Homo sapiens: one gene and its partner. The protein of the gene in region 1 binds, or shares a complex with, the protein of each later gene. Each region holds a gene or a part of one and is shown on either strand. Other genes may lie near its edges. The genes, in order: NPFFR1 and GNAI1. A codon is read from its position in the direction of its gene.

Region 1 (4,014 bases):
CTACTGCCTTCTTGCCTTTCTCAACTAAAGTTCCATGGAGGAGATGAAGGGGAACGACATCAAAGAGTTTGAGGGTATAATAATTGGGTCCCAGCAGAAAACAAATGGTGCACTCAGAAAGGGTTTAACTGAACAGAGTTTAATGGAAGAAGAGAGGGTTAAGAGAACCAGCCAGAAACGGTGAAGCACCCAGGGACTCACAACCACAGGAAGCTGTTACCATTGAGTGCAAGGAGAGGGAAGAGTGTTACTGTAGTCAGGTGAGGGCTAGAGCCATGAAAGGGGACTCACCCAATAGGAGCAGGCTGTGGCTATAGGGAAAAACAGCTGCTGAAAGAATTGGGCCAGGCAGGAAGGGAATCAGAAGACAAACACCCTGACCTCTCTCTCTGCTCCTGCCCTCCCATCTCCTTCAGGGCCTGGCATTGGCTGAACCCAGCTAGAAGCCAGAAGACAAGGGAACCAGGGCAATGCAGAACTTAGAGGTTAGCCTCTGGGGCACACAGGAGGGCCAAGAAAGTTGGAACCTAAATGGGATGGGGGAGTTAATAAAGAAAAACCAACATTGGAGAATGAGTTATGGGCAAGACAGGGCATGAAGTACAAGACCAGGGTTTGAGTGGTTGTAGGCTGAAAGTCTTGGATCAGTGCATCAAGTTGCAACTGGAGCTGGGGACATGCTTGGGGGACCAGGGCATGGTTAAGGTTTGGCACACAGAGGGTCTCATTAGTGGTGAGAAATCGGTAATCTCTTCTTTGCCTAAGGTCCTGACCAATATATTCCTTTGGTCCTAGGGGAGCCCTCCCAGCCTCCCAACAGCAGTTGGCCCCTAAGTCAGAATGGGACTAACACTGAGGCCACCCCGGCTACAAACCTCACCTTCTCCTCCTACTATCAGCACACCTCCCCTGTGGCGGCCATGTTCATTGTGGCCTATGCGCTCATCTTCCTGCTCTGCATGGTGGGCAACACCCTGGTCTGTTTCATCGTGCTCAAGAACCGGCACATGCATACTGTCACCAACATGTTCATCCTCAACCTGGCTGTCAGTGACCTGCTGGTGGGCATCTTCTGCATGCCCACCACCCTTGTGGACAACCTCATCACTGGTGAGTGCGGGCAGTTGGCAGCAGGAGTGTCCCCTACCCCCCACTTCAACTTCTCAGATAAGGCTGGAAATCAAAGCTTAGAAGACAGATATCATTGCTGGGCTGGCCTCTTGGCCATGCCGTGGTCTCGAACTCTCAAGACAGTCTTGGGGCTGAAGAGTTAGACTAGAAATAAGAGATTTAATGAATTTCCTGTTTTCTTTGTGCCTGGCATGATGTTACTTCTCATGCATTATCTTAATTCATCCTCACAACAATCCAGTGAAGTAGAGTTTATGGTCCTCCCCATTTTATGGAAGAGGAAACATGCTCGGAGTGGTTAAGAAACTGGTCTGTAGTTACACAGCTAATAGGTGTCAAGGTCAACATTCTCACACCCATACTTCTAATTATTGTATTATACCATTCAGTCCCACTCTCTCACGGAGCTCGCATGGGCAGAATTAGAGCCAGTGGGGAGAAGTGGAAGGGAGGCAGGTTTCCTCTGAATCGGGAACGAAAACTCCACTCATTTGAGCTGGAAATTGAGCAGGGCACAGAAGAGAGTCCTGCCTGTAAGTAATGAGCTCTCTGTCCCTTGGAGTGTCTAAGCAGGGACTGGCCGGCCACTCAGTGGACCACTTGACCTCTAAATTCCTGCCGGTGCATCCTGCAGATGTCAGAACAGTGCCATCTACTCTCTACTCTCTCATGCGACTGGCCTTTCTTGTTTTAGAATCAAGTTTCCACCAACCTGAGACTCCAGGTGAGGGACTGGTTTTCAGAGATATGGAGACCCCTAGAGGTCTGAGCCTGCAGATTCTGAGCTCAGAGCTCCCAGCAGCTCACTGGTCCTCAGGATCCAGAGCCTGGACAGCCCTATTCAGAGTGACTTCACTGACTCGGGGCAGAGGGAGCCACAGCCCACGTTTCTGTAGGTTCTAGGACCCAGGATGTGGAGCCAGTGCAGAGTCAGCTCCCCTCCACAGTACCAGCTCTGTCTGGTGGAACCGTTACCCACTGCTGAGTCCCAGCTTCCTTTGCCAATGCTGAACATAAACTGCATTCCTCTCCTTTCCAACACATAGACACACACACGTGTACTCAGGCACACATGTGCAGAGATGCACACATGCATACACATAAATACATGCATACCAGTCAACAGTGATATAATGAGGTCACTAGCTGGTTAAGGTGGCGTCTCCCCATCTTTTTCATACACTCATATTTAAAATATTGTTTGAATACATAAAACATTCAGATGATTCAATAGTCAAAAACTACCAAAATTCTCCAGTGAAAAATCTCCCTTCCGCCCCTGTCCTCTGGCCTCCCAGCTCTTCTCCCTCCTGGGAGGCAACCAGTGTTGCCAGTTTCTTGTGTCTCTTTCAAACACTATTTTATGCGAGTGCAAGCAAATTGAGGACATGCTAAGGTTCCAAACAGCCAGTCCCGTACTTTTACTTCCCACCACACCCCACTTAAAAATATACCATGTATGCTGTAAAAAAGATTCATTAAAATAAACTTACATGTTGTTATCCCATATTAATAAATAAAAGAGTTTCTCACTATTTTCACCAACTGCTTAGAATTCCATTGTATGGATGTACTACAATTTATTTTGATTTGTATTTATGTTGTTTCTAATAGAATCTTCTGCAATTAAATAAAACTTCACACAGCTTCACTATTTTTTCTTTCTTTTTTTTTTTTTTTTTTTTTTTTGGAGTCTCACTGTCACCCGGGCTGGAATGCAGTGCTGGGATCTCGGCTCACTGCAACCTCCGCCTCCCAGGTTGAAGTGATTCTCCTGCCTCAGCCTCCCGAGTGGCTAGGATTACAGGCTTCTGCCACCACACCCAGCTAATTTTTGTATTTTTAGTAGAGATGGGGTTTCACCATGTTAGCCAGTCTGGTTTTGAACTCTTGATCTCAAGTGACCTGCCTGCCTCGGCCTCCCAAAGTGCTGGGATTACAGGCATGAACCACCACACCGGCCTCTTTTTTTTGAGACAGTCTCACTCTGTCATCCAGGCTGGAGCGCAGTGCACGATCATGGCTTACTGCAGTCTCAACCTGCCTGGGCCCAGGTCCTGGGACTACAGGCATGTGCCACCACCAATGGCTAATTTTTCTATTTTTTGTAGAGATGGAGTTTTGTCATGTTACCCAGGCTTGTCTCAAACTCCTGGGTTCAAGCCATCTGCCCGCCTCAGCCTCCCAAAGTGCTGGGATTACAGGAGTGAGGCACCATGCCCAGCTTTTTCTTCCTTTCTTTCTTTTTGTTTTGTTTTGTGTTGGTTTTGTTTTTTTTTTAACTCACATACAGAAGGTTGAATCATTCATTCAGTTTACAGTTCATGGCACTATGTGATTTCACTCTGTTGCAAAGCTCTTCTTTTGTTTATTTGTTTCCTTCTATATACCTATTCCACTCTACATCTCTTCTCTGACCCATAGGCAGCCATTCTGTTATATTTCTGTCTTTTGTATGCATTCTCAGAAAATGTGCTGTGAATGGCCGGGCGCGGTGGCTCATGCCTGTAATCCCAGCACTTTGGGAGGCCAAGGCGGGTGGATGACAAGGTCAGGAGATCGAGACCATCCTGGCTAAAATGGTGAAACCCCATCTCTACTAAAAAATACAAAAAATTAGCCGGGCGTGGTCGTGGGTGCCTGTAGTCCCAGCTACTCGGGAGGGTGAGGCAGGAGAATGGCGTGAACCCAGGAGGCAGAGCTTGCAATGAGCGAGATCACGCCACTGCACTCCAGCCTGGGTGAAAAAAGAAAATATGCTGTGAATGTGTGCATGTTTTACATTTAAATATTTTTGTTAATATATAATTTAACATACATTAAAATCTGCCTTTTTAAGTGTATAGTTCCACAGGGGCTTTTTTGTTGTTGTTGTTGTTGCTT
Region 2 (3,629 bases), on another chromosome or scaffold:
TTCCTCTAACTTTTCTATTTGATAAAAGAGAGATATACTAGAGAAGCACAGGTGGATCTTGAGGAAAAGGAAAACATGGAGAGTCAATCTCACCTCAAGCCTGTAAGCTTAACTATGCATTTCTGTATCTAATATCAACATAGCACATGGAAATATAGTTACATAGTAGTCCAAGATTCCCTTTTCTTAATTTGTTACTTCTGTTAGTTTAGTAAATCTTTTTTTTTTTTTTTTTGAGACGGAGTCTCGCCCTGTTGCCAGACTGGAGTGCAGTGGCACCATCTCTGCTCACTGCAACCTCCACCTCCCAGGTTCAAGCCAGTTCTCCTGCCTCAGCCTCCCAAGTAGCTGGGATTACAGGCACGTGCCACCACACCCAGCTGATTTTTGTATTTTTAGTAGAAATGGGGTTTCACCATGTTGGCCAGGTTGGTCAGAAACTCCTGACCTCAGATGAGCCACCCATCTCGGCCTCCCAAAGTGCTGGGATTACAGGCCTGAGCCACCGCACCCAGCCGGTAAATCTTTAATATATGTTATGCTTTGTTGCTGCCCTGTAATTTTCAGATAGGTTTCAGTGTACCATTAATATGGGGGAAATGTTTTTAAATAGAAATGTAAAACTTTGTCATTTTAAGTTAACTTTATTACAAAGTGGGGGAAAAAGTAGAAATGTCGGTTTTGTTCAGTTGACCCTTGAACAACGGGTTTAAGCTGCATGGGTCCACATATATGAAAATTTTTTTCAACCAAGCACATTCATGGGATGCAAAACCTGAGTATACAGAAAGCCACTTTTTCCTATGTGTGGGTTCCACAGAACTGCCTGCTGGACTTGAGTGTATGCACATTTTGGTACCCTTGGAGGTCTTTGTACTAATCCCCCTGAGTATACCGAGAGACGATTGTATTTTTAAAATCAAGTATATGAAATTATAGTGTAGTAGGTGCAGTGCAACACCACATGTTCATTTCTTTCATTTCAGCACTATAAAATGTATCAGTGCCCTCTTTGATGAGCACAGATCCTGGAAGGTCAAGAAACAGGAATTGGAAGTGTCCTTCCAGTATTTATATTTATTATAATATTTAGAGTATTGGGCTAATTGGGTCTTAGCTTGTTCAATTTAAGTTATTAATCTTTAAAAACCTCTATTTATCTTCTAATGGAAATTTAGATGAAATGAACTCTATGACAATGTCATTTCTTTTCACATGTTCACACTTCACATCCCTAGATTATAATGTCCTGTAGCAGGATATTCCCTGGCACAGAGCATGACATATAGTGGGCACTTGGCAAGTAAAAGTTGAATGCAAAAAGTGGTGAAAGATGATTAGACACTTCTCTTACCTAAAGTGAAAGTGTGTTCTGAAATGGCAGAAATGTATTTTTGTGATACGTATTTTTCAATCACTAAACTCTGTTTTATTACAACACCTTTTATTTTTTAAAATAGTCCTCAAAAATCCTTGCTGTTAGTGACGATTGGTTTTATTTTTTTCTATTACAGAACCGAATGCATGAAAGCATGAAATTGTTTGACAGCATATGTAACAACAAGTGGTTTACAGATACATCCATTATACTTTTTCTAAACAAGAAGGATCTCTTTGAAGAAAAAATCAAAAAGAGCCCTCTCACTATATGCTATCCAGAATATGCAGGTATTTTCCTTTTCTGGGAATAACTTGTCAAGTTACATATTTCTAAGTGAAACTTCCCCTAAGGCAAGAATTCAGTTGTTAATTTAAATCTCTTGGCTTAGTGATTCTTAGACCTTTAAGGGGTATTATTTATCAAACTGCAGTTGAGCATAAAAATTTCCTTAAGATGTAGATGAAATTACTGAAAATAATGTATTCATTTTATGGAAAAGCAGTTAGATAATTTTTAGTGATGACTCCAAGTTAAAATACTATTTTTTAAATCCAGTTAACAGATTTCATATCAGGTACTGTGTGATGTACAATAAATAAGACATGTCTCTGCCCACCATCTAATCTGAAAGACAGACATACTTAAACAACAGGCAATAGCAGTGCAACCTACTGCTAAAATAAGGAACATGAACATTATAGTAAGGGGAAATGAAGACAGGATCATTGAGGCAGCTAACTCTTCCAGAAGGGCAGGGAAGGTTTCACAAGAAGCCAAAACTTTGGTAATGAGACTGTTAATAGTGCTTTAATTTTACTATGATGGAAAATTCCCTGGAGTGAGGAAAGTAGACCTGAAGTACAGTCCTGACTTTTCCATAATTAGCTCTTTGATCTTGAACAAGGCAGTTAGTTCACCTAGGTCTCAGTATTCCATCTGTGAAGTCAGGAGTTGGGCTAAAACATTAGTTTTAGTTTAATTTAGTTCCTTGGAGCACCTCCTGGGTTGCTGTTGAAGGCGGAAATGGGAGAGGGAACAGAGCTAATTACTGCCCCCTGCACCCACCACCTTATAACTTTTTCATTAAAGCAGAGTAACTCAGCTTTCATCTGGTTTATGTATTGAGTAAAGTTTTACTTTAGTGAAGAGCATTCAGTATGCCTTAAAAAAACAGGGAGTTTGATTACCACTGGTTTATGTAATCTCCAAATCTAGATAGTTTGAAGAGTTTAGTTATTTACCCTCACCCCACTCTTCCTGTTTTTTTTTTTAAAAGTCTCAAGAATTTGTTTTTTTATAAACAGAATTTTCCTCAGTCTTGTGTTGAGTAAATTGTACGATGAGTATTCACTGCCATTTTACAGGAAATGTTAAGACAACCCTGTGATGTCAGTGCTCAGGTATCCCTACCCATACAAATGAGAATACCGGGGCTTCCTGAAGCCAGAGTCCAGTTCCAGACCCAAGTCCATTGTCCTCCTGCTCCTAGACCATGAACGACTAGGCTACATTTAATTAAACATTCAGTGGAACCAAAAGGGGAGGGTTCTTTGGTAAATATAATCATGTTACTTATAGCTCTTTTTGTGTACGGTGAAATTACACTTCAGTTCAAACTAATTTCACACATTTACTTACTTTAAAACTTTGCTTTCTTTTTGAAAGTCAAAGTCCTAAATCACTGTATTCAGCAACATTTTTTTGTGCTTATTAGAAATAAGCTACCCAGAGTCAAGATGGCTTAATTTTTCCCTTATTTGAATATATTTTTCAGTTTATTTTTATCATATTCTATGATGTAGCCATTTTGTACTAATTCATAGTACCAGATTCCCCAAGTGAATCCATAAATATTGTATACCTACGGGGATTTTAGAGCAACTAAGAATATACTTGTTAGCTCTTTCCTTGCCAAGTAGACAGTGTGTTTAGGAATTTTTGCTTGTGTTTTGCTTAAGTTAATAAGAATACCTGACTTCAGAATCTTTGCACAAAAAGAATATTACATAATTCTTTCACATCCCCAGAGTTAAGATTATTGTTTAAGATCTCCATGGCATGCCCAAAGTATTGATTCAGTTGCTTCTTGCTTCAGCCGCAACTCTCAATTTCCTGTGGCTGTGGAAGAACCCTGTGTAGCCCCTAAACAACTCACTTGATTTATCTCCTGTCTGTCTGCTCCTGTGTTACCCTTCTCCTCCTCTTCTTTTTCCTGTATGTTGCCACTTCACCAGTTTCATCTGCAGTC

What was found.
Region 2: the proteins of NPFFR1 (region 1) and GNAI1 are in contact, whole or in part, in a cryo-EM structure (PDB 9M0R), measured with the Homo sapiens proteins. Residues at the interface, in NP_071429.1 of Homo sapiens: Thr78 (codon at 1,020), Arg141, Cys144, Ile145, Pro148, Phe149, Leu243, Arg264, Arg265, Val268, Met271, Leu272, Phe332, Asn333, Glu334, Asn335; in NP_002060.4 of Homo sapiens: Ala31, Arg32, Asp341, Ile344, Asn347, Leu348, Lys349, Asp350, Cys351, Gly352, Leu353, Phe354.

Annotation. Positions count from the first base shown.
Region 1 is NC_000010.11:70,263,173-70,267,186, reverse strand, and holds part of NPFFR1 (neuropeptide FF receptor 1), read left to right. Parts: intron 1-795; coding exon 796-1,110; intron 1,111-4,014. UniProt on the Homo sapiens protein: Receptor for NPAF (A-18-F-amide) and NPFF (F-8-F-amide) neuropeptides, also known as morphine-modulating peptides. Can also be activated by a variety of naturally occurring or synthetic FMRF-amide like ligands.
Region 2 is NC_000007.14:80,211,202-80,214,830, forward strand, and holds part of GNAI1 (guanine nucleotide-binding protein G(i) subunit alpha-1), read left to right. Parts: intron 1-1,514; coding exon 1,515-1,668; intron 1,669-3,629. UniProt on the Homo sapiens protein: Guanine nucleotide-binding proteins (G proteins) function as transducers downstream of G protein-coupled receptors (GPCRs) in numerous signaling cascades.